Regions from separate parts of the Homo sapiens genome. Here region 1 is linked to region 2. Evidence: fine-mapped expression QTL. A gene starts in region 2. The other region holds a variant in brackets. All regions are shown on one strand. Distances are between the middles of the regions.

Region 1 (12,773 bases), 980 kb after region 2:
CAAACTCCTGCCCCATCGCTGGTCAGAGACACTCACAGGGGACCTGTGGCTGAGTGGTTCCCTTTCTGAAGTGGTTGGGAGCTTTGGGAGAGGCTTCCCCTCTCCTCATCAGGTGCTTCTTTAGCTGCGCCTCCTGCTGCCTACGCAAGGCCACCTGGGCAGCCATGACCCTGCGGCGCTCCCTAAAAGTGGGGAGTTGCAAGTCAAAGGTCAGCCACCCTTTGGAGGAGGCTCATCCTCCTCCCCTCCCAGACCTCATACTCACAGGATGAGGACACATTTGTGACACTCGCAAGCCTGGAAGAGGCAGAGGCGCTTGTGGCCCTTGAGATGGGCGGTGACACCATGGTTGCGGCAGCGGGCGCAGGTTGGAGAGCGGCTGATGGCTCTCCTGGGGATCAGCTCTGTGCTCTGGGGGTCTCTGGTCTCATCCCAGGGGGCAGAGTCTAAGGGGCAGTGGTAGCCAGCAGGCATGTCACTGGGTTCCATGGATCTAGGGGCAGGAGTGGAAGGTAAGCATAGCCAGGTGGGCCTGCCCCTAACAACCCTCCTGCCCTGGAGACCACACCTGCAGGTCTCCATCCTGCCCCTCTTTAGACCCCGCCCTGATTCTGGCTTCTTTCCCAGCTTTCTCCCCTCTTTACCCCATGACATTTCTCAGGTATCTTCCTTCTTCAGAAACCCCTCTCCTCTTCCTCTTCTGTGTTCTTTCTTTTTTTTTTTTTTTTTTTTTGAGATGGAGTCTCACTCTGTCTCCCAGGCTGGAGTGCAGTGGCACGATCTTGGCTTGCTGCAACCTCCACCTCCCGGGTTCAAGCGATTCTCCTGCCTCAGCCTCCTGAGTAGCTGGGATTACAGGCAAGAGCCACCATGCCCGGCTATTTTTTTTTATTTTTGTATGTTTAGTAGAGATGGTGTTTCACCATGTTGGCCAGGCTGGTCTCGAACTCCTGGCCTCAAGTGATCTGCCTGTCTCGGCCTCCCAAAGTGCTGGAATTACAGCCATGAGCCACTGCACCCGTCCCCCCTTTTTTTAATTTAAAAATTTTTAGGCCGGGTGCGGTGGCTCAAGCCTATAATCCCAGCACTTTGGGAGGCCAAGGCGGGTGGATCACAAGGTCAGGAGATCGAGACCATCCTGGCTAACACAGTGAAACCCTGTCTCTACTAAAAATACAAAAAATTAGCTGGGCGTGGTGGCGGGTGCCTGTAGTCCCAGCTACTCCAGAGGCTGAGGCAGGAGAATGGCGTGAACCCGGGAGGCAGAGCTGGCAGTGAGCCATGATCGCGCCACTGCACTTTAGCCTGGGTGACGGAGCAAGACTCTGTCTCAAAAAAAAAATTTTTTTTTAATTGTTTTTTATTTTTATAGAGACAAGGTCTCATTATGTTTCCCAGGCTGGTCTGGTCTCGAACTCCTGGGCTCAAGCGATCCTCCTGCCTTGGCCTCCCACAGTGCTAGGATCAGAGGCATGAGCTGCTGCGCCCGACATTCTGTATTCTTTCAATTCAAACATTCTTTTCTTTCAATCCAAACACTTTCCCACCCACACACACATCCTAGGTTCCAACCTACTCATGTCCTCACATACCCCTTCAGCGAGTCCTACATCCCCTTTTCACAAGCACCCTGTTCCGTCCCAACAGTGTTTCCTGGCATCCTCTTCAACAATGCTCACCCCACTCTCATGCATTCATCCAATGCCTACCAGTAGTTTTATGCCCCTTTCAATTCTTAGTTCAATTTCAATTCTTAGTCTCATCTATGCCCTGCAAAGCAACTGCCTCCTTGCATTCCTTTAGTCTTATTTTGTTCTTGTACCCCTTTAAATCAGAACCCTCTCTTGCACCCCCAATAATTACCTTATTCTCATGGATTCCCTGCTCCACTTTCTTTTTTTTTTTATTGACAGGGTCTCGCTCTGTTGCCCAGGCTGGAGCGCAGTGGCGTGATCATGGCTCACTGCAGCCTCCACCTCCTGAGCTCAAGCAATCCTCCTGCCGCAGCCTCCCCAGTAGCTGGGACTACAGGCTGGAGCCACTATGCTTGGCTCCCCTGTCCCACTTTCTTTCTTTCTTTTTTTTTGTTTTGAGATGGAGTCTCACTCTGTAGCCCAGGCTGTAGTGCAGTAGTGCAATCCCGGCTCACTGCAACCTCCGCCTCCTGGGTTCAAGCAATTCTCCTGCCTCAGCCTCCCGAGTACCTGGGATTACAGGCCTGTGCCACCACGCCCGTCTAATTTTTGTATTTTTAGTAGAGATGGGGTTTCACCATGTTGGCCAGGCTGGTCTTGAACTCCTGACCTGCCTCAAGCGACCTGCCTGCTTCGGCCTCCCAAAGTGTTGGGATTACAGGCATGAGCCACCGCACCCGCCACCTGCCCCACTTTCAAGTTATTTTCCTTCACTCCTTCATTCATTCCACAAATGGTTACTGAGCCCCTGTCATGTGCTAGGCCCTGATCTGGGCCAAAAACCTTCTCCTTGGGGCACTAATGTCTCTCTTGCGCTCACACCTTATTCAGGTTTTTGTGTAAACATGTGAAGTCACTGTGTCCAGCGCTTCCTGCTCCTGTGGCCACTACCAACAATTAATTTCATGCATGTCCCCCTCCCCCCTTCCCGTGCCCCAGGGAGCGAGTGGGGAACCGGGAACGCGCCAAGGGGCCCGCGAGGCAGGGAAGGGGAGAGGGGGCGCGAGGGCGGGAGGGGCGCGAGGGGGAGGAGAGGGGATGCCTGGGTTAGGGAGTCCGGCTAAGAGGGAGGAGGACGGAAAGGCAGGAGGGACCGTGTTCGTGCAGCTAGTTCACGGTTACCACAGCCTCCAATGGAGTCAGATTCAGTCAAGAAGACGCCCAAAGACACTGTGAGAAAGTGGCCAGAGGAACCGCCAAGCTCGCGCTGCTTTTCTTACCCTGTCTCACAAAGACCAATGAACTTCAAGCATCGCCTCTCTCAGCCGAGGCAGACGACCAATGCGGTTTGAGATCCTGAACTGATGTCCCGCCCCTTCCCTTCTGCCAGCTTCTTGGCGCACAAGACTATCAGTCCCACCAATAGCGCTTCGAGTTGAGCCTCGCGCCACCGCTGCCTCTCCCTCCGCACGTCCTGCCCGCCCAGACTGTCTTCCCCCTTTCGAGGCAGGTGGCCAATGGGGCGTCGAGTACCCCTTATTGGACCGAGGCTGGCCCCGCCCCCCAGGAACGGCCCGCCTGGCCCCGCCCCTGGGGCGTTGACCAAGCCCGGTCTGTGCACGGGTTGCCTCGTTTCTGGCCTTCCCTTGCCTTGTACCTCGACTTCGCGCGTGGCTTGTTTTTGCTGAGTGGAGGCCTGCGTTTTCTGTTATGTCTCTTCCGGTGCCCCACAACTCCTGAGCTACCCTTCTTTTATGCGTTCTCTCCCAGCGCTGTGATTACCGGGTTGCTTACCGGGCCCTCCTTCCTCAGATTGCACCCCTTTCCTTGTGTCTCTTCTTGTCTTTGTGTCGGTTGTGATTTTCCTAATCTCTGATTTTCCTTTTCTCTCGGACGCTCTCCCTCTTCGGACCCATTTTCTCCCGTGCTTCATGCCCTGATAGCCTGGCCCCTTCCCGGCTTCCTTCGCTACCGGGGACGCCTCTAGTTTTTCTGAATTTCTGGCTGGCTCCACCCTCCGCGTTCATCTTCCTCAAGAGTTCGCCCCTCTGGGGGCTCCTCTGTGTAATCGTCGCCTTCTCTGGGTATTTCTGTGAACTCCGTCTCACACCATCCCGCCATCTTCTCTGCCTTGGCCCCTTTTCTCTGTACAGCCAGCTCTGTGTCCTTTTCTTCTCCCCCTCTAAAATCGACTCCTCTTCTCCCTGAGAGCCCCACCTTTGTGCCCCACTCCTCATTTTCCTACGCCTCCCTCTCTCTGCTGGTCCTCTCTCTCCCTGCAAGGTTCCATTCCATCAATTTGTTTGTCTTTTGTAGGGGTGGCATCCCCTCTGACTACTGCTCCATCCTTTTTTTTTTTTTTTTTTTTTTTTTTTTTGCTTGAGGATTTCACTTCAATCTTTTCTGGTTGCGTCTCCACTTGTACTCAGCTTGTTAGGTCCAGGTCCAGTTGTTCTGCATCTGAGGCTGGCGTGTGCTGTCTTCTCTGATTGGCCTAATCTCCCTCACCCCCGTGAGATCTGTTGTCAGCCTTCGTTTCTCTTTCCTGTGTCCCAGCTTTTCTGCGGGTCTTGGCACCTTTCTTGGCCACAGATTTCTGGGTTACAGAGCATGTGTGTCTGAGGCATTGCAGGCAGAAAAGGGTGGCCGACGTGACCTCTAGCTGGACTGCTGGGCAGGGGAGCTGTCCTAGATAAAATTGGAAAGGTTGGGTGGCGCTTATCTGGGGTGGGGTGGGGTGTGGTCGGGGGAGGCTTAAAGGCCAGCTAAAGAGGTTGAACTTGATCCTTTAGGTAGTGGAGAGAGAGTGAGAGGAAGTGTGTGTGGGAGGGAGGGATAGTGGTAGAGGAACAGGGTAACCAACGATTATAAAGAGCTTAGCATTTGCCTAATACTTATGGTAATAATTTTATTGATCTTCACAATGACCCTATGAGATGTATTATACTTCATTTTATAAAGAAGGTAGTAGGCTCTGAGTTCAACAAATTGGACAGCTAGTAAATGAAGGGGTAAAGATTCCAACCTGGGTCTCTGAGGCCAAGGTCAGTGATCTTTGTACCCCCTCCTACACTGTTATTTTCCACCAATTCCCCACTTTCATTCCCTAACCTTCTTATAGGCAATTCTCATTCTAAGGTGGTTAATATGTATCTTTTGGTTTGTGTGTGTGTTCTCCCAGGATGTGTGTAGTGTTGTTGTTGGGGTTTTTTTTTTTTTTTTTTTTTTTTTTTTTTTTTTTTTTTTTTTTTAGCGATGGGGTTTTGCCATATTAACCAGGCTGGTCCAGAACTCCTGGCCTGAAGTGATCTGTCTGCCTTGGCCTCCCAAAGTGCTGGGATCACAGGCATGAACGACCACACCCGACCTCTGTTTGAGTTTTTAATTTATGCAAGTGATATTATGTTATATACTATTTGTAATAATCAGCACTGTGATTTTACAATCTATCCATGTACACATTCTGTCATTCTGTCATGATGTGTACTTTTTTTTTTTTTTTTTTTTTTT[TTTTTTTTTG/G]TTTAGACGGAGTTTCACTCTTATTGCCCAGGCTGGAGTGCAATGGTGTGATCTTGGCTTACTGCACCCTCCACCTCCTGGGTTCAAGCAATTCTTCTGCTGCCACAGCCTCTTGAGTAGCTGGGATTACAGGCTCCCACCACCACACTCGACTAATTTTTGTATTTTTAGTAGAGTCAGGATTTTGCCATGTTGACCAGCTTGGTCTTGAACTCCTGACCTCAGGTGATCCGCCCACCTCAGCCTCCCGAAGTGCTGGGATTACAGGCGTGAGCCACTGTACCCTGCCTCACATCCTGTGTACATCTAATCAACTTCTTCCAACTCCTGCGTGATATTCCATAGCGTACATCCCCAGCATGTTTTGCATTCACTTGGTCTCAGAGAGGGAAGCTCCCATTGTCTCAACCTACCATCACCACAATAATGCTGCATTCTCTGGGCATGGGAGCTCATGCCTGTAATCCCAGCACTTTGGGAGGCCGAGGTGGGTGGATTGCTTGAGCCCAGGAGTTTGATAACAGCTGGGGCAACATGGAAAAACTCCATCTCTACAAAGCTGGGTGTGTTGGCGCACACCTGTAGTCCCAGCTATTTGGGTGGCCGAGGTGAGAGGATTGCATGAGCCTGGCAGGTGGGGGCTGCAGTGAGCACAGCTGTCCTCCAGCCTGGGCAACAGAGCGAGACCCAGTCTCAGAAAAAAAAAATGCTGCATTATTGTGCATGTTCCTTTGTAGATGAAGGTGGACATTTTTGTAATACCTATGTAGGGTATACTGGAAATGGGTATTTATAAACCCAATTTGACCATGTAGTGTCAGACCCCTGCAATGCTGCTTTGGGCCTGAGATCCTGGTCAGAACTCTCAACTCCTTTGTTTCTCAGAGTCCAGAAATAGTGTTTTATTCCCCAGCCCTCCAAATAATGCCATGAGCATCAGGGGCCAAGGGTTCCTTTATCCCCACATACCTGCCAACACTTGTCTTTTCCCAGCTTTCTGATCCTTACCAGTCTGATAGATGTACAATTTGACAGATTGCATTTCCTTGGTTATTGCTGGGTTTGTGCATTTCTTCACTTTTTTTTTTTTTTTTTTTTTGAGACAGGGTCTTGTTCTATTGCCCAGGCTGGAGTGCAGTGGCATGATCTCGGCTCACTGCAACCTCTGGCTTCCGGGTTCAAGTGATCCTCCCTCCTCAGCCTCCCTAGTAGCTGGGACTGCAGGCACGTACCACCACACCGGGCTAATTTTTGTATTTGTAGTAGAGACAGTGTTTCACCTTGTTGGCCAGGCTGGTCGCGAACTCCTGACCTTGTGATTTGAGGCTAAAGCAATCCTTCAACATTAGCCTCCTGAGTAGCTGGGACTACAGGCACTCCCATGCTTGGCTAATTTTTAAACTTTTTTTTTTTTTTGGTATAGACAAGGTGTTGCCCAGGCTGGTCTCAAATTGCTGACCTCGAGCAGTCCTGGCTCAGCCTCCCAAAGCACTGGAATTACCGGCATAAGCCACTGTGTTGCCCAGGCTGGTCTTGAACTCCTGACCTCAAGGGATCCTCCTGGCTCAGCCTCCCAAAGCACTGGGATTAGAGGCATGAGCCACTGTGCCGGCCTGCATCTTCTCCCTTGATCAGATTTGCCAGCGAACTAACTAAATCTTTTCATAGAATGGATCTTTTTTGTAATAATGTTTGTTGTTGTTTACTATTTCATTGATTTCTGCTATCATCCTTATTTCCATTCTTTTTTGGGTAGGAGAGAATTGCTTTGTTGCTCCTTATACAATTTCTTGAACTAGTTCATGAATATATTTATTTTTTAATGCTTCACATTTCCTGATACATGTATTTAAAAGTATAAATTTACTTCTAAATACTGCTTTAGCTGTGTCTCAAATTTTGATGTATATATTTTATTTTATTTTTTTTTTTTTTGAGACGGAGTTTCGCTCTGTCGTCCAGGCTGGAGTGCAGCGTCGCAATCTTGGCTCACTGCAAGCTCCGCCTCCCGGGTTCACACCATTCTCCTGCCTCAGCCTCCCAAGTAGTTGGGACTACAGGCGTCCACGACCATGCCTGGCTAATTTTTTTGTGTTTTTAGAGATGGGGTTTCACCGTGTTAGCCAGGATGGTCTTGATCTCCTGACCTCGTGATCTGCCTGCCTCGGCCTCCCAAAGTGCTGGGATTACAGGCGGGAGATACTGTGCCCGGCTGTATATATTTTAAAAACCCTTTAATTTTGAAATGATTGTTGGCTCACAGGAAGTTGCAAAAGTGGTACATAGAGTCCCTTGGATCCTTCCTCCAGTTTCCCTGTAGGGGCATCTTATATAACCATAGTATATGAGCAGGAAATTGACATTTGTACAATACTGTTTGTACAGTCATAGCTCACTGCAACCTCCATCCCCGGGGCTCAAGTGGTCCTCCCACCTCAGCCTCCCAAGTAGCTGGGACCACAGGTGCATGCCACCATGCCTGGCCAATTTTTGTATTTTTTGTAGAGATGGCATTTTGTCGTGATGCCTGGGCTGGTGTACAGTACTCTTACCTAGACTTCAGACCTTATTCAGTTTACAGCAGATTTTACATGCACTTATGTGTGTGTGTGTGTGTGTATGTGTGTGTCTGTCTGTGTCTATGTCTGTGTGTGAATGTGTGTGTTATGTAATATGTTTATTATTATTCAGTTCTAAATACTTTTTTTTTTTTTGAAATGGAGTCTCTGTCTCTGTTGCCCAGCCTGGAGTGCAGTGGCGCGATCTCGGTTCACTGCAACCTCCGCCTCCTGGGTTCAAGCGATTCTCATGCTTCAGCCTCCTGAGTAGCTGGGACTATAGGCTCGTGCCACCACCCCTGGCTAATTTATATTTTTTAGTAGAGATGGGGTTTTACCATTTTGGCAGGCTGGTCTTGGACTCCTGACCTCTGGTGATCCACCTGCCTTAGCCTCCCAAAGTGATGGGATTACAGGCGTGAGCCACTGCTCCTGACCTCAGTTCTAAATACTTTTAAATTTCCATGTTGAACCAAGGGTTATTTAGTGATATGTTAACTTACACACACACACACACACACACACAACACACACGAGTTTGAAACATCTATTTGTTTCTCTGATCTCATTGCCTCTGGCTGGAGAACAGCCTGCATATCAGTAAGCCAGGATTCTCTGCTCAGCACCTTGTCCAATGGGAGGACCTAAGTGGGAGAGTGAGAGTCCTGCTTTGAGAAGCTAAGATGGTGGATGGTGCAGGTTAGACTGGAGGGCAGACAGTGGAGATGGGAAGACCTGTGACCCAGAAGGTCTGAGGGAGCCTATGTCCTAGAAGCTGATGCAATCAACTTTCTGCTCCAGAAACAGTGACCCAGAGACAGGTGGACAAAGAATTCGGGGACTGATGGGAACTGAGCTTGGGATCCAGACTGAAACTGATTCCAGACTGACCTCTAGCACCCAGGACCCAGACACAGGGCCATGGGACCCCAGCATTTGAGACTTGTGCAGCTGTTCTGCCTTCTAGGGGCCATCTCCACTCTGCCTCGTATGTCCTGTGGGGCTGGATGCTATAAGACCCAGAAAGGTGGGAGGCTGGATTCATGTCACTGGTGGAACGAGGGCTGGGTATCTAGGTTTCGCTGGGGACAGGACCTGTGGGGGCTGAACTCTTGGTTGGCAGTTAACGGGCTCAGAAGATGATATGAGGGGCCAATGACTGGGAGAGCATTCTCTTTTTAGGGGCTGGAGCTCTTTTGTGCTATGAAGCAACAGCCTCAAGATTCAGAGCTGTTGCTTTCCATAACTGGAAGTGGCTTCTGATGAGGAACATGGTGTGTAAGCTGCAAGAGGGCTGCGAGGAGACGCTAGTGTTCATTGAGACAGGTGAAGCAGTCTAAGTTTGATCAATTTCGTTTTGCTTGCTCTTCTGACCCCCAGCTCCACTCCCAGCACCGAGGGACTGTAGATTAGAATTCCACATAGTTACTATACATATATATATATATGTATATATATTTTTTTTAATTTTTTTTGAGATGGGGAGTTCTTACTATGTTGCCCAGGCTGGTCTCAAACTCCTGAGCTCAAGCGATCTGCCCACCTTGGCCTCCCAAAGTGTCCGGATTACAGGCATAAGCCACTGTGCCTGGCCATCATTTATATCTGGATAATGTCAGGACACTGGCAGGAGAGGGGCAGGGCCCCACTGGTTGTGTTGTGGGCTGGGTAAGTGGGTAGAATGGAGGTGGACAGATCCCTGGAGGAGGGCACAAGGGAGAGAGGAGTGGGGGCTGGGGGAGGTCCTGCAGTGGAAGAATGAGGAGATCCAGATGGAGACCCCAGCATCTGAGCCCTGTGCAGCTGCACTGAGTGGACACAGGGGTTGGGGAGGGAGGCACAGATTGTGACAGGCAGGGTGGGTGCAGAAAGAGCTGGGGGGAGGGAGGACTCTGGGTGAGGCCAGTGACACTGATCTGAGCTCTCTCAATCCTCTGCTCCTCAGGGACTGCAAGGGGAGTCGTGGGCTTTAAAGGCTGCAGCTCGTCTTCGTCTTACCCTGCGCAAATCTCCTACCTTGTTTCCCCACCCGGAGTGTCCATTGCCTCCTACAGTCGCGTCTGCCGGTCTTATCTCTGCAACAACCTCACCAATTTGGAGCCTTTTGTGAAACTCAAGGCCAGCACTCCTAAGTCTATCACATCTGCGTCCTGTAGCTGCCCGACCTGTGTGGGCGAGCACATGAAGGATTGCCTCCCAAATTTTGTCACCACTAATTCTTGCCCCTTGGCTGCTTCTACGTGTTACAGTTCCACCTTAAAATTTCAGGCAGGTGAGAGGAGAGGAATATTGTTTATCAAATGCCTACTCTCTGCCAGGCATTGTCCAGCACCTTCACATCTCAGAGAGGCTGGTGGGATCCAGAGATGGGATTGGGGTTGCAAGGGACAGGGCACATGAATTCCAAGGAGGAAGGGGAAGGCGCCTGGTGCCTAAGTCTCTCATGGGAGAGCAGGTGTTCTGGTTTGTGAGGGGCCTCTGGGGAGAAGGCAGGGGCCTTTTTTTTTTTTTTGAAATGGGAGTCTTGCTCTGTTGCCCAGGCTGGAGTGCAGTGGTCCGATCTCGGCTCACTGCAACCTCTGCCTCCCAGGTTCAAGTGATTCTCATACCCTAGCCTCCTAAGTAGCTGGGATTATAGGCATGTGCCACCATACCTGGCTAATTTTTGTATTTTTAAGGGAGATGGGTTTTTGCCATGTTGGCCAGGCTAGTCTCAAACTCCTGGCCTTAAGTCCTCAAGTGATCCACCTGCCTCGGCCTCCCAAAGTGCTGGGATTACAGGTGTGAGCCACTGCACCTGGCTGAAGGCAGGGCTCTTGAGTCTTGAAAGTGTTCCTGACTTCTCCCTCTCTTCCTTACAGGGTTTCTCAATACCACCTTCCTCCTCATGGGGTGTGCTCGTGAACATAACCAGCTTTTAGCAGATTTTCATCATATTGGGAGCATCAAAGTGACTGAGGTCCTCAACATCTTAGAGAAGTCTCAGATTGTTGGTGCAGCATCCTCCAGGCAAGATCCTGCTTGGGGTGTCGTCTTAGGCCTCCTGTTTGCCTTCAGGGACTGACCATCTAGCTGCACCCGACAAGCACCCAGACTCTTTCACATAACAAATAAAATAGCAGAGTTCCCTTTCTGCATTGTCCTGTGGTCCATGAGAGAGCAGGGGTGAGGAAGGTGTGAGGAAGGCCAAGCATGTCCAGGGAGGTGGGGACCCAGGAAGAGGAGCCTGGCAAAGTGACAGTGTCCTGCCCAGCAACTGGGGGAGCTGAAATATTCCTTTTCTCCTTCCCCTTCCTCTGGAGGCTTGAGCTCCAGCCTGGGTTCAGCTACTAATCAGGGTCTGATTTCCGAGACCCTGGCCAAATCTCTCCCTTTTTATGGGCCTCAGTTTCCTCCTCTTTAAAAGGAAGGGTCTTATGAGTTAGAGAAGAGCCTCCTCAGGCCAATTCTTTTTTTTTTTTTTCCTTTTTTTGACATGGGGGTCTGTCTCACTATGTTGCCCGGTCTGGTCTCGAATCTTTGGCCTCAAGTGATCCTCCTGCCTCAGCTTCCCCAGTAGCTGGGATTTTACATGGGAGCGACTGTGTTTGACCACCAGGGTGATTATTATCTGGGATTACTTACTGAGTATCTACTATGTGTGCCAGACACTGTGCTAGTATCTGTGCTAGTGTTTTACATACAGGATATCATTTAATCCTCACAAGACCTCAGTGAGGCAGCTTTTGTCTCTATTTTGCAAAGAAGAAACTAGCTCTAGGAGGTGAAACCTGCTCAAAGTAGCATCTCCCTTACCTCCCCTGCAGATTTCTGTCCCTGCTGAGGCAATTTCATTGAGAGATTTGGAGACTTGAGATTATTTTATCTGCTCAGTAGTTGTTTTTTTTTTTTTTTTTTTTTTTTTTTTTTTTTTTTTTTTGGTAAGTTGGCAAATAGGGGAGAGAGGAAAGAGCAGGGCTGGGGTGGTTGTTTTTCACCCGGAGTTTTGGTTCTGGGTTCCTAGGAAAGGAGAACAGTGTGATTCTTTTCTCTGGCCATAAGGGGGCAGCAGATACACTCACCCTGCAACTTCATGCCTTTTTAAGTTGAGTGAATGAGTGTGTGTGTGTGTGTGTGAGACAGAGTTTGTGTGTTTAGGGGTGGGAAGTAGGGAATGGAGAGTCGCTGTGTCAGGCCATTTATGTGTGGGAGCTCAGTTTAATTCTCTCCCACTATCTTGTGAGGTTTAGAGGCAGTGACGTAGGGTACCTTTACTGTGGGTTAGGCATTTTCTGTGCATTACCTCGTTCATCCTTACTACAACCTTATTAAATAGATGTCATCACTTCTGTATTTGCATTTTACAGGCGAGGACACAGGCTTAACTCCTCAAGGCCACGGAGCTGACCTTTGTTAGTAGCTTGAGCAAGTGGGGTCTGAAGCACACGTGCCTGCACCTGGCCTCAGAAGTGGGACTGACACGAGGTTTCGGTTACCATGGACCTCTGTGACCTCCATGACCAATCTAGGTTCTGGAAGGGGTGGTTGGGAAGCCAGAATAGTCACAGCAAGTGGAACAGGGCTAGGTGGAGACCAGCGAGCCTACGACAAGAGGCTTTAGGTCATAGAGGGAGGTTTTAGTAGATGAGTTTTATCAGTGGGCTTCGCCCACCTCTTCCTAACATCTGACCAGCTGGGCTATTAGTTTTAGAAGGCTGAGCTGAGGCCTGGGTGGGCCAAGACATACTTCCACAGATTGTCTTCATCCCACTAGCCAAGGTGGTTGAGGACATCAATGACCTTCAAAGGGAATTAACAAGTCAAAGGAAATGGTGTCCTAGGTGTCACAAATGGATGGCTTAATCCTGATACCAGGGACAGGACATATTTGCTACATACAAAGGATTATATGTAACAAAAATATTGGATGTGGAGTGTGATTTAACAAACCCCATGGACTCATCACTTAGCCCAAGAAATGGAGCATCAGGAGTAACTTGCTTTTTACCTGTGTTCTTTTCCCCATCCACTCCTTTGCCTCCTCCCATGAGGAAGCAATATTTTATTTAGTTTGGCTTGGATT
Region 2 (12,446 bases):
GGTTTTGAAGCCAAGAAAAAACAATTTGTTCAGGGAATCATCTGGAGATGCCCGAGATCTTTGGCTTTCCTGTTTACCCCGTTCCTTTCCTTTCCTTTTTTTTTTTTTTTTTCTTCTTTTAGAGACACAACCTTGCTCTGTCACCAAGACTGGAGTGTACTCACTGCAGCCTTGAACTCCTGGGCTGAAGCAGTCCTCCCACCTTAGCCTCCCAAGTATCTGAGACTATAGGCATGCACCACTGCACCTGGCTAATTTGATTTGTTTTATGTTTTGTAGAGACGTGGTCTCCCTTTGTAGCTCAGGCTGGTCTTAAACTCCTGGTTTCAAGTGATCCTCCTGCCTTAGAGTCTCAAACTGCTGGGATTACAGGCCTCTGCCAGCACACCTGGCCCCCCAATTCTTCAAAAGCTTTCAGATAAAGCATCATAGAAGACATGACTTTGTGACTGTATGTTTCATCTCATCCTACATCACTAGGAAGGCTCATTCTTAAGAAGTCATGCCCCATGGAAAAGGGGATGAAGACAAATCAGAAAAGGGCAAAGGGAAGTCACAGCAAAAAAGGGACAGTATAATCCTGGAACCTTATTAAAGTCACACAACAGCTGCTTCAATTAGAGCAATTCGTTTGGCAAACATCACTCTAACCCTATAGACTAGGTTTTCTAGAGTTTCTGAAGCATCTTCCAATTGCAATGGCAATGTGACACATTTTTCTGAATTGCAGTCTGAATACAGTGTTCATGTGTACCTTTTGTGTAGTCCACACATCAGCAGGCACAAAGGTTGTTTATATATAAGTTGCTATGATTTATCCAGAAGTTTACATAAGTCGTCGAGTTTCAGCTTGCAAGTTTTAATCTATCCATCTGACAAAAGGCTAATATCCAGAATCTACAAGAAACTTAAACAAATATACAAGAAAAAAAACAAATAAGCCAATCAAAAATGGGTGAAGCAGATGAACAGATACTTCTCAAAATAAGACATTTATGTGAGCAACAAACATAGGAAAAAAAGCTCATCATCATTGGTCATTAGAGAAATGCAAATCAAAACCACAGTGAGATACCATCTCATGCCAGTTAGAATGGTGATCATTATAAGGTCAGGAAACAACAGATGCTAGAGAGGATGTGGAGAAATAGGAATGCTTTTACACCGTTCGTGGGAGTGTAAATTAGTTCAACCATTGTGAAAGACAGTGTGGCGATTCCTCAAGGATCTAGAACAAGAAATATCATTTGACCCAGTAATCCCATTACTGGGTATATACCCAAAGGATTATAGATCATTCTACCATAAAGACACATGCACACATATGTTTATTGTGGCACTATTCACAATAGCAAAGACTTGGAACCAACCCAAATGCCTATCAATGATAGACTGGATAAAGAAAATGTGGTACATATACACCATGGAATTCAATACAGGCATAAAAAGGGATGAGTTCATATCTTTGCAGGGACATGGATGAAGCTGGAAACCACCATTCTCAGCAAACTAACACAGGAACAGAAAACCAAACACCGCATGTTCTCACTCAAAAGTGGGAGTTGAACAATGAGAACACATGGACACAGGGAGGGGAATATCACACACTGGGGCCTGTTGAGGGGTGGGGGACTAGGGGAGGGATAGCATTAGGAGAAATACCTAAGGTAGATGATGGGTTAATGGGTGCAGCAAAACACCATGACACATGTATACCTATGTAACAAACCTGCAGGTTCTGCACATGTATCCCAGAACTTAAAAGTGTAATTAAAAAAAGATAAAAATTTAAAAAGCACAGTTTTAATTTATAATATACCAAAATGGAAGAAAAATGGAAGAAAATTCTGAAACCATTAGTTTTGAAATTTGTAGCCAGGAAAAAATTTAGGATTCAGTCCAAATTGTAGGTAAATAACAAAATTTAAAAAAAATGAACAGATCTAAAATGTAATAACCATTTTTCTGTTGTTTCCTTCTGAAAAATAATTTTCCCCCTCCTGTCTCCCATTTTTATGAAATAGAAATCATATGGGACCAATATATTTCCAAAATAAGTTTTAGTCTTATACCTGGATTGTTTACATAAAGTGCAGCAAGAATGTAGATTCAAGGCCTCTATGAATACATAAATTTTATATATATATATATATATAAATATAAGAATATATATATTCTATCATGTAGAATGGCACTAAACTATATTAATGGCAGCAAATCTGTACAAGTCTGTAGCAGCCTCAATTCTTGCTTCTTCAGAAGAAAGAATTCAACTAAGTGTCATAAGGCAGAAGAAGAGACTTAGGCAAATTTTAGAGCAGGAGTGAAAGTTTATTTAAAAGCTTTAGAGCAGAAATTAAAGAAAGTAAAGCACACTTAAAACAGGGCCAAACAGGTGATGAGATTTCAAGTGTGTGGTTTGACCTTTGACTTAGGCTTTTGTATGTTGGCATAATTCTGGGGTCTGCATCTCTTCTCCCCTGATTCTTCCCTTAAAGTGGGCTGTCTGCATGTGCAGTGGCCCACCAGCACTTAAGAAGGGAGCCTGTGTAGTGTGTTTCCTGGAGTAAAGTTGGAAAACAGAGACCAAAATAAAAGCTATGTATGGAAATAAAATTGGTCTCCTTATAAAATCCTGTTATAAATTTCTATCATTTTTGTGTTACCTTGGCATCTACTTTTAATCTTCCTTGAACACACCCAAACTCCTTCTCTCTGTGTGTGTGTGTGTGTGTGTGTGTGTGTTTGTGTGTGCTTTGAGATGTAAATTTACTACCTACTTTCTCTAAAACTCAGCAAGGGCTTCCTCAGATAAATGTTAACTTTTTCTATTTACAAAAGCACAACTTAAATCCAGCTATTTTTTTTAACAGTGAGTTTTATGTGTTCATGCATAAAGTTTTAAAATCAAAAATCTGAAGTATTTCTGTCTCCCTCTATCTTTATGTGCACAAGTATATGTTCTATGCTGTATCACATATCACATATGTATATGTCCATACCTATGTTTATATATTGTTTATACATGGTATCAAATTAATGTAAAAATAAATGGGTACTCATCAATTAAGTAAATAATACCAAATGCTTTTCAACACATGTGATTTTAGTAATCTTCAATAAGGGAAGAACACCTCAAATGAGCATGCATACCCACCTGCAGCCTCCTTAAAAAAAAATTATCAGGCCAGGCACGGTGGCTCACACTTGTAGTCCCAGCACTTTGGGAGGCCAAGACGGGTGGATCACAAGGTCAGGAGATCAAGACCATCCTGGCTAACATGGTGAAACCCTGTCTCTACTAAAAATACAAAAAAAATTAGCCGGGCCTGGTGGCAGGCGCCTGTAGTCCCAGCTACTCGGGAGGCTGAGGCAGGAGAATGGCGTGAATCCAGGAGGCGAAGGTTGCAATGAGCCCAGATCGCACCACTGCACTCCAGCCTGGGTGACGGAACAAGACTCCATCTCAGAAAAAAAAAAAAAAAATTATCAGCCAAGAATTTTGTATCCAGCAAAACTAAAGTTCATAAATAAAGGAAAGATAACAGTCTTTTTCAGACAAACAAATGCTCAGAGAATTTGCCACTACCAAGCCAGCACTACAATAACTGCTAAAAGGAGCTCCAAATCTTGAAGCAAGTCCTGGATACACATCAAAACAGAACCTCTTTGAGCATGAATCTCACAGGACGTATAAAACACAAATACAATAAATAAATGAATAAAACCAAGGTATTCAGGCAACAAATAGCAGGATGAATGGAACAGTACCTCACATCTCAATACTAACATTGAATGTAAGTGGCCTAAATGCTCCACTTAAAAGACACAGAATTGCAGAATTGATAATAGTTCACCAAGCAAGTATCTGCTGCCCTCAAGAGACTCCCCTAACCATAAAGTGTCACATGAACTTAAGGTAAAAGGGTAGAAAAAGACACCCCATGCAAATGGCCACAAAAGTGAGCAGGAGTAACTATTCTTATATCAAAAAAACTAACTTTAAAGCAACAGCAGTTAAAAAAGACAAAGAGGGACATTACATAATAATGGAACAGGGAGTGGCATTTGATGCTTGGTGTCATCCTAACCCCCACAGTCCCTGTAGTAGTTTGCTAGGGCTGCCATGACAAAATACTGCAGAGGAGTAGATAAGCAACAGGAGTTTATTGTATCACAGTTCTAGAAGCTAGAAGTCCATGAACTTTCCTCCTCTGTAAGAGGTTACAGTGCTTCCCATGAGCTCATATATATGGCAGAGGGAGATACAGAAGGAGCAGGTGCCACGGGAGTCTGATTCACCCATTGGGTCACTGGTGCCCTGGGACCTGCTTGAGCCTGACCCCATACACAGCTCTCCCTGGGATGCTGGAGGCTGCTGTGCACGCCCCAGGTAACTCAGATGTCACCAGGACACGATGTGCCACTCAGGTCCTAAAGCCCTTGGTGTCCTATGGTCAGGTATTCCAATTCCACTAAGCCCAGGGATAAGCCAAGAGCTGCTTCCTGAATGAAGAGTTACCTGCAGGAGGAGGCGTGGTCTTTCTCTAGAACGTCCAGTTCTGCACGGTGAATCTTTTGGAGCTTGTGAAAGCCTGCATAAAATAATACACTGCATTTGGAACATAGATGCTCTTACATTCATTAATTTCTTTTTTTTTTTTTTTTTGGTTGAGATGGAGTTTCACTCTGTCATCCAGGATGGAGTGCAGTGGTGCCATCTTGGCTCACTGCAACCTCCACCTCCTGGGTTCAAGCGATTCTCCTGCCTCAGCCTCCCAAGTAGCTGGGATTACAGGTGCCTGCCACGATGCCTGGGTAATTTTTGTATTTTTAGTAGAGACGGGGTTTCACCATATTGGCCAGGCTGGTCTCAAACTCCTAACCTCAAGCGATCTGCCCGTCTAGGCCTCCCAAAGTGCTGGAATTAGAGGTGTGAGCCACTGCTCCCAGCCTCATTAATTTATGAGTAGGCTCTTCCAGGAGTTATTGAGAAGAATATTTTACAATTCTAAGTGGAATATTTTAGCAGGAAGGACCGTGGTTTATTTCTACGATAATTCTGTTGTGGCTTAAACAGTTTGTTCTTTTATAATTTGGGGTATTCCCTCTACCACCTATTGTTTACTTTTGACCTTTGATATTTACCCTATGCAAATTCATCAACCCCTGATTTTACTTCTTCAAAGCCAGCATGAGGCTAGTCAAGCCTGGTTTCCTCTCACAGGAAGTAAGGCTTTTGCCCCATGGTATTTGTGTAGCCAGGTTACAGGAATTAAAAATCTATTGCAAGTGACAGTAATTAAAAAAAAAATCAAGTGCGGGCTACTCTGGAAGAAGAAACATTGGAATGTAGATTTTATTTGTTTATTTGCAGAGAGATGAACCAGCTTATACTCATTTGATTTCCACATTATTCATGGAGAGTCTAAAATCAATTTCTGGGAACAAAAAACCAACTTGAAAAGCTGTTTAAATTCTGTTAGTGGGACTTCCAAAGGTACAAGGGTTAAGAAAAAGAGAGGAGAAAAGAGAAAAGACGGGCAGGGAGAAATGAAAAAGTGACACCAATGTGAGCCAGACAATGGAGATGGAGAAAAAGCAGTCGAGAGGGACAGAGGGCACGGTGGAGGTCTGCAGGATCTGAAGATCCGCCTGTCTTCTCCGGACGCTCACCTCTTACCTGATCCCAGAAACAGACTGAGCTTTAACTCTGACCACACACTCCTCAGGGTGACGGAGAGTGGGGCCACCTGCACCCTGCCAGCCTTCCACAGCCCCTCTGCAAGGGCTCTGCTCCACACTCTACACGTGCTCTGAGGCCCCTTATTGCAACATATGACTTCCTCGGGCTTCCATTCCCTCCACCGCCTCTTTCTTCTCGCTCAAGCATCTTCAATGGTCTGGATACGTTTCTTTGCTTCCATTTGTCACCTTCCACTCACTCGTCCTTGTCCACTTCCATCTTCCCCTTTCTCTAACATTGCTTGTACTGAGATCAGCAACATCCTCCTTTATTGCTAAACCTGCCAGGAACTCAGAGGTTAGTTTTGCATCCTTTGACACTGAGGGCCACTTCTTTTCCTGGAATAATCTCTGTGAGGCAAATATACATTTTTAAAAACTTTGTTTAGCCTGTTGCAAAAAGATAAAGAGACTCTCCTCTTTTCACTCAGAGCATTTTCTATTCATTCATTTATTCATTCATTCATTCATTGACAGAGTCTCACTCTGTCACCCAGGCTGGAGTGCAGTGCTGCCATCTAAGCTTACTGCAGCCTTAACATCCTGGGCTCAGGTGATCCTCCCTCCTTAGCCTCCTGAGTAGCTGGGACTACACGCACACCCCACCATGTCCAGCAAATTTATTATTATTGTTGTGTGTGTGGAGATAGGATCTTGCTGTGTTGCCTAGGCTGGACTTTGAGATCATTTTTTTTAGAAGAGGTGTAATTGAAAACTCTTTCTCTATCCCTTGAAGATGTATGCAAAGCTTTCTAAAGCATACATAAGTATCTTGCCTGCCTCACAACCCAGAATTCTCCTCCTCAAGGCCATAGGAGACCTCTCTTTGAAAGGCAGGCATCCGGGCAGAAAGCACCCCTGTCTCCCAGTTTCTGTGAGAAGGAAGGAACCTCAGTTCTGGGGGCATCTCACTCCCAGTTGCAAAACTACCTCCTGTCATAGATGAGAGGTTTCTTTTTCCTGTGGATAAAGCCAATTAACCACACAGAGAATCAACACAGTTACTGGGTGAATTTAGGATGAACTACGTGTGACAAATGGTGCCGTTGAGTCCTCTCAACTGGGAACTAGTCACCATCTATCTGGAGACCATGTGTGTAACGGGTTGCACCTGCTTGGCTGGATACAAAGGTGGGATTTCTTTCTGTCTTTGTCATCTCTTAGCAGATTGCATCACATTTTGGCTTAATGCTTACTCAATCATAAGACAAGTTTCTTTTACTTCTATGGATGTGAGGGGGGTTTCTGGGCTGAGCAGAAATTTGTTTCTTAATTATATTTTTCCAGCAACCCCCACCCAACCTACCCCACCTTCTCTGAAGCTACTTCCCCCAGGCTTTAAAGGAGGCTGCTCCCCGGGGTTCCTCCCGGGCCCTGCCTCTCCTGGTTCATCTGATCTCCCACCCTCGAGGCATCGTAGATTCCCTCCCTTCCATGTGCTGATGCCTCTCGGATCTCTAACTCTAGGCAGAAACCGGCTTCTCAGTTCCTCAGCTCAAATACCCACCTTGGGACGGGCTTCTGCACCGGGACATCCCGCCAGGAACTCTCCCGGTGGAACACAGTCCATGTTCTCTGGCTGCCCTGCAGTTTTTAAATGCCACCAGTACACATGGGGAATGTTCTGCCTTCGCAAGGAGGAAGCTGGAAAGTTCATTTTCCCAGCACTCCTTGCAGGAGGGACACCGACACGGGTCCAGGCTTTCCCCATCAGGTGCTCCCGTGAAAGACTCAGGGTCCCGAACAGCACCAGGAAGCAGAGGGTGCATGACACCGATTTGTTATTGTTTTTGTTTTAATTTTTTGAGCAGGGATGGGGGACCGAAGCTTCTGGTGTAGAAGCTTCTGGACTCCAGCGCCAGCCTCAGCAGTGCAGGGTGCAGGGTGTGGTTTCTGCCTCCTGCAGTAGCCAGAAGATCTTGACCGGAGCTGTCCTGTGCCTGTGGTTTGTCCTTGCCCTGGGCCCTGTGGCCTCCAAGCCGGATTCATGAGGGCCCTTGGAGCTTGGTGACCTTCCTACCCTCTCCTTTAACCGGTCCTTTTCTGATTCTTGCTGGAGTGAGCTGGGCGGTTTTCTCTGAATCTGCTCCTGGGGTTCTCCCTTAGGGAAGGGCACCCTAGGCACCCAACCCCTCAGCCGGATGCCCAGCAGATGTTATCATGCTTCCACTTTCCTTGCCCCTTTATGTCCTGTGGTCACTCCTTTCTGTCCCTTCCATGTCCTACATCTCTCTCTGCTGTGTCCTGTCTTCTGCACCCTGTGGCCTCCACCCAAGTTTGCATCACCACCCATTCCTCCTTGAATGAATACAGTTGTCTCCCCGGGTCTCCCTGTCTCCATAGGGGCCAGCAGCATCCGAGCCAGCTTCTTCTCTGTGGCAGAGATGATCTTTTTCAGGCCTCCTCCGGCCATGGCCCTTTCCTGCTCCTCTTTCCAGAGCTCCCAAGTCCCCGGGATGCACTCCAGCTGCTAAGAGAGGCCTCGAAGGTTAGGCGATGTGGCCTCCACAGTCCTCCTGAGCAGCCACCCCACCTACCCTCATCCTTCAGCCCCATTACATTTCCTTTTTCTGTTTGATTTTTTGAATAGGTGTTGTATTTAGATGGCTCAGTAATTTCCATCTGTGTGTATCTGTATATGTGTGCAGGCATGAAGAGCCTGTGTCTCATCCCTGTTCCCTATGCACCCAGGTCCTAGCCCCACGCCAGCCCCAGTGGCCAGCTGTGCTGTTCATGACCTGCAAAGCTTTCTACAGCTGTTTTATGCAAAACAATAGGAATTATTGTAAATTATTGTGAAATATATATAACATAGAATTCACCATTTTAACCATTTTTTTCCTTTCTTTTTTTTCTGTCTTTTTTTTTTTTTTTTTTGAGAAGGGTTCCTCTTCTGTCACCCAGGCTGGAATGCAATGGCATGATCTCAGCTCACTGCAAACTTCACCTCCCGGGTTCAACCACTTCTCCTGCTTCAGCCTCCTGAGTAGCTGGGACTACAGGTGCATGCCACCATGCCCAGCTAATTTTTTGTATTTTTAGTAGAGCGGAGATTTCATCATGTTAGCCAGGATGGTCTCAATCTCCTGACCTCATGATCTGCCCACCTCGACCTCCCAAAGTGCTGGGATTAGACGCAAGCCACCTCGCTCGGCCCATTTTAACCACTTTTAAGTGTACATCCAGTGGCAGGAAGTACATTTAGGTTGTTGTTCAACCACCACCACTGTCCATCCCCACCCAGAACTTTTTCATATTCCCCAACTGGAATTCTGTACCCATTAAACACCAACTCCTCTTTCCCCCTCCCTCCAGCCGCTGACAACCACCTTTTCATTTTCTGCCTATGCATTTCATGACGTTACGCACCTCTGTTAAGTGGAATCATGTAGTAGTTGTCTTTTTGAGTCTGATTATTTCACTTAGCAGAAAGAACTCAAGGCTTAATCATGTTGAAGCACACATCAGAATCACCCTTCTTGTTACAGCTGAATCCCATTTGTTTGTACGCATAGACCACTTTTTGTTTATTCATTCATGGATGGATGGACACTGGGCTTGTTTCCAACTTTTAGCTATTGTGAATAATGCTGCTATGAACAAAGACATGCAAATATCTGCTGGGGCCCCTGCTTTCCGTTCTTTTTGGAATACACCAGAAGCCGAATTGCTGCATCTTGTGGTAAGTCTATGATTAATTTTTTGAGAAATGACCACAGTTGTTGTGCCATATTACAAACCCACAAACACTACACAAGCATTCCAATTCCTCCTCGCCAACACTTTTCTTTTCTGTTTTCCTTTTTTTTTTTTTATTGGGAACAACCATCGTAAAGGATGTAAGGTGGTATCCCACTGTAGTTGTGATTTTTATTTTCCTAATGATTAGTGATGTTGAGCATCTTTTCATGTGTTTATTGGCCATTTGTAAATTAATTTTACATTTCCTCCTTTGTAATGCAAGAGGTAGCACACCGTGCATTGTTCTGCTTCTTGTTTTTCTCACTGTGCAGTGTATCTTGGAAACCTTTCCCGGTGCACAGACAGAAGGATACCTCATTCATTGCCACAGCTGCACAGTATCCATGATGTGGATCATGGCTCATGACCCAGTTCCCTACGGATAAACGTCAAGGTCGTTCCTGGTCTGTGGCCATCACCAACACTGCCGCGACTAGTCTAGAATGGGTGCCATTTCATGCATTTGCAATTCCCAGAAGTACACTGGTTAGTCAGCAGGTGAGTGCATTGGTGAGAGGATGTGACTCCAATCTCAGGAAATATGGAAACCTTCTTCCCTTTCTAGCTGCAGCACCCCTAGTCTGGACAGCATATGGAAAGCACCCATGATCATTTGAAAATCACAAAATAACTCTAAATTTCTGCACAAGTAGGTCATCTACCACTTGTCATTCTAATCCCACACTAGGCACTTTAAGAACATGCACCCCTGGGCTTTTGCTACACTCTTTTCTTATGCTGGTACCCACCTTGTGGTGACTGAGGGTTCTCTTAATATCCCCAAGTCTGAGGAAACTGAGGCACAATTCGATTATCCACTTATGAAGTGGTGAATCTGTGGATTAAACTTATAAGACATATCCACTTCACACTCCAGAAAACTTCATCATTCCCAACATTATTGTCTTCCACCATTGGGAAAGAAATATTTTCCTTGGTAATTAGAGGAGAAAAGGTGTTTGGTGTTTCATTGTCACTTTCCTGGTGTGGAAAGTATCTACTTGCGGGTCTTTCCTAGGGCCAGCGAGTCCTAACATGTTTGAACATCTACCCATGCTATTTAAGGCAGCACACCAAACACATTCCTGCTTCGACTGCAGTATCTGTTTCATCAAGAAGAGTATTTTCCTTAAATAAGTTTGAGGTGCCTACTACTTGGGGAAATACTAAGCCTTTGGTATGCTTCTGCTCATCTAGGCATGAGACGGCTCCATCATTACTTTGGTCTTCAGTTTTCTGAATCTGCTTCTGGAAAACACTGCAAAATGTCATTTTTGAGAACTGCTGCTTTGCAAATACTTTTCATGCCTATGTGATGTGCTGTTATTCTCTCTCATTTCCTTGCTAACGTACAGTCATGCATATGAAGCAAGTTATGAGCCAGTTAAGACTGGATCTGAGTCAACTAGATTTGCATGCATTTTCAGCCACAGTACAGGTTCCTAAAAGTCATCACATGTCTAGTCTCAAAGTACTTATAGAATAGCATCTGATTATTATTAAGTAGATTTTTTAAGGCCTCTCAAGGATAAAGATTTGAGGTGTTATATCCATTGCTTTCCTCCCTCACACTGTTTTTGACTTTTAATTCTTCCCTTTCTCCACTTTAATTTCTAGTCTCCCACTGCTAATTCTCCATATGACCCATCCCCACCACCACCATCCTCAACAGCCACCAGTGAGAATTCTTACTACCTGAACTTCACTGTGACAAAAATCAGCCTTGGACCTGTGGGCTAAATTGTTCCAAAAGTCCTGATGAAGTTCTCAGATTCAGGCAAAGCTAGGTCTCCTGATACCCTGTCTCAGTCAGTTTTGCATTGCTATAAAGGAATACCTGAGTGAGGCTGGATAATTTATAAAGAAAAGAGGTTTATTTGGCTCACAGTTCTGCAGGCTATACAAGAAGCATTGCACCAGCATATGCTTCTGGTGAGGCCTCAGGGAGCTTCCACTCATGGTGGAATGGGAAGTGGAGCTGCTGTGTGCACAGATGACATGGTGAGAGAAGAAGCAAGAGAAAGAGGAGAGGAAGGTGCCAGGCTCTTTCTAACAATCAGCTCTTGCAGGACTGAAAAGAGAACGCACTCATTACCATGAGGGCAGCACCAAGCCATTCGTGAGGGATCCGCCCCCATGACCCAAACACCCCCCTGTAAATCCTCATCTCCAACATTGGGGATCAAATTTCAACGTGGGGTTTGCATTTTCCTGCAAACTCATGTGCTGTGCACTCCCTCATGTCATCTATGAATGATCACCTGCCCCAGGACTTCCTTGAAGGAATAGCTCAAATTATTTTCTAAGAGTTCTGGGGGTAAAAAAGCAAAAAAACTAACTCTACTGACACCCTTCTTTGTCTCCCAGTGTTTATGGAGCGTAACCAGTGTTCATAGCCCTCTGCCAGGCATCGCAGATACAGAGGTCAAGGAGATAGACATAGCCCTGCCCCTGTGGAACTTGTAATATAGTTGGGGAGACATATGAAACCATTGCTCATGTAAAGGTCTGATTGCCAATTATTACACAGGCTAGCAAGGGAAAGAACAGAGTCGATGACAGAACGGCTCTGGGCACCTAACTTAATTCAGGTCTTATAAGGCCAAGGAGTGGGCCTCACTACAGAAATGGTGTGGAAGGTGAAATCAGGAAGCAGTTGAAGTCCAGCTTCTGAAATGTTAGAACACAGACTCATCATACAACACAGCAATTCTATTCTTTGATGTCTACCCCCCCCAATAAAAATGAAAACATATGTCCACCCAGAAACTTGTACATGCATGTTCACAGCAGCTCTATTGATAATAAAAGGAGGAAATGACAAGAAACTACCAAAAGAGAACAATGTGAAGGACTGGGTGGAAGCTGGTTCTTCAGTGAAATCTCACAAATTCCAGTGTTTCTAGTACTTCTTACCAACACTTACATGTATTCACCCTAATTAGCTCATGTGAAAAGGA

Which allele goes with the higher level. Alleles are on the strand shown, and positions count from the first base shown. SD is a standard deviation of normalised expression in the study named.
For the expression in prefrontal cortex of the gene that starts at base 9,165 in region 2, TTTTTTTTTG is the low allele of the variant in region 1 and G is the other (moderate effect, 0.60 SD a copy in ROSMAP).

What was found.
Region 1: its variant is fine-mapped to the expression of PSG8-AS1 in prefrontal cortex (ROSMAP, PIP 0.95).

What each region holds. Positions count from the first base shown.
Region 1 is chr19:41,835,145-41,847,917 of GRCh38, reverse strand. It overlaps LYPD4 (LY6/PLAUR domain containing 4), which reads left to right and starts at 3,235. Exons shown (of 5, transcript NM_173506.7): 1 at 3,235-4,340; 2 at 8,513-8,699; 3 at 8,894-9,037; 4 at 9,657-9,983; 5 at 10,573-10,844. The coding sequence starts at 8,633. The coding sequence ends at 10,775. DMRTC2 (DMRT like family C2) reads right to left here and starts at 2,876. Exons shown (of 9, transcript NM_001040283.3): 1 at 2,817-2,876; 2 at 266-493; 3 at 37-182. The coding sequence starts at 489. The variant TTTTTTTTTG/G (reference allele first, on the strand shown) is at 5,145.
Region 2 is chr19:42,818,582-42,831,027 of GRCh38, reverse strand. PSG8-AS1 (PSG8 antisense RNA 1) reads right to left here and starts at 9,165. Exons shown (of 4, transcript NR_036584.1): 1 at 9,115-9,165; 2 at 7,253-8,215; 3 at 5,684-6,096; 4 at 4,150-4,595.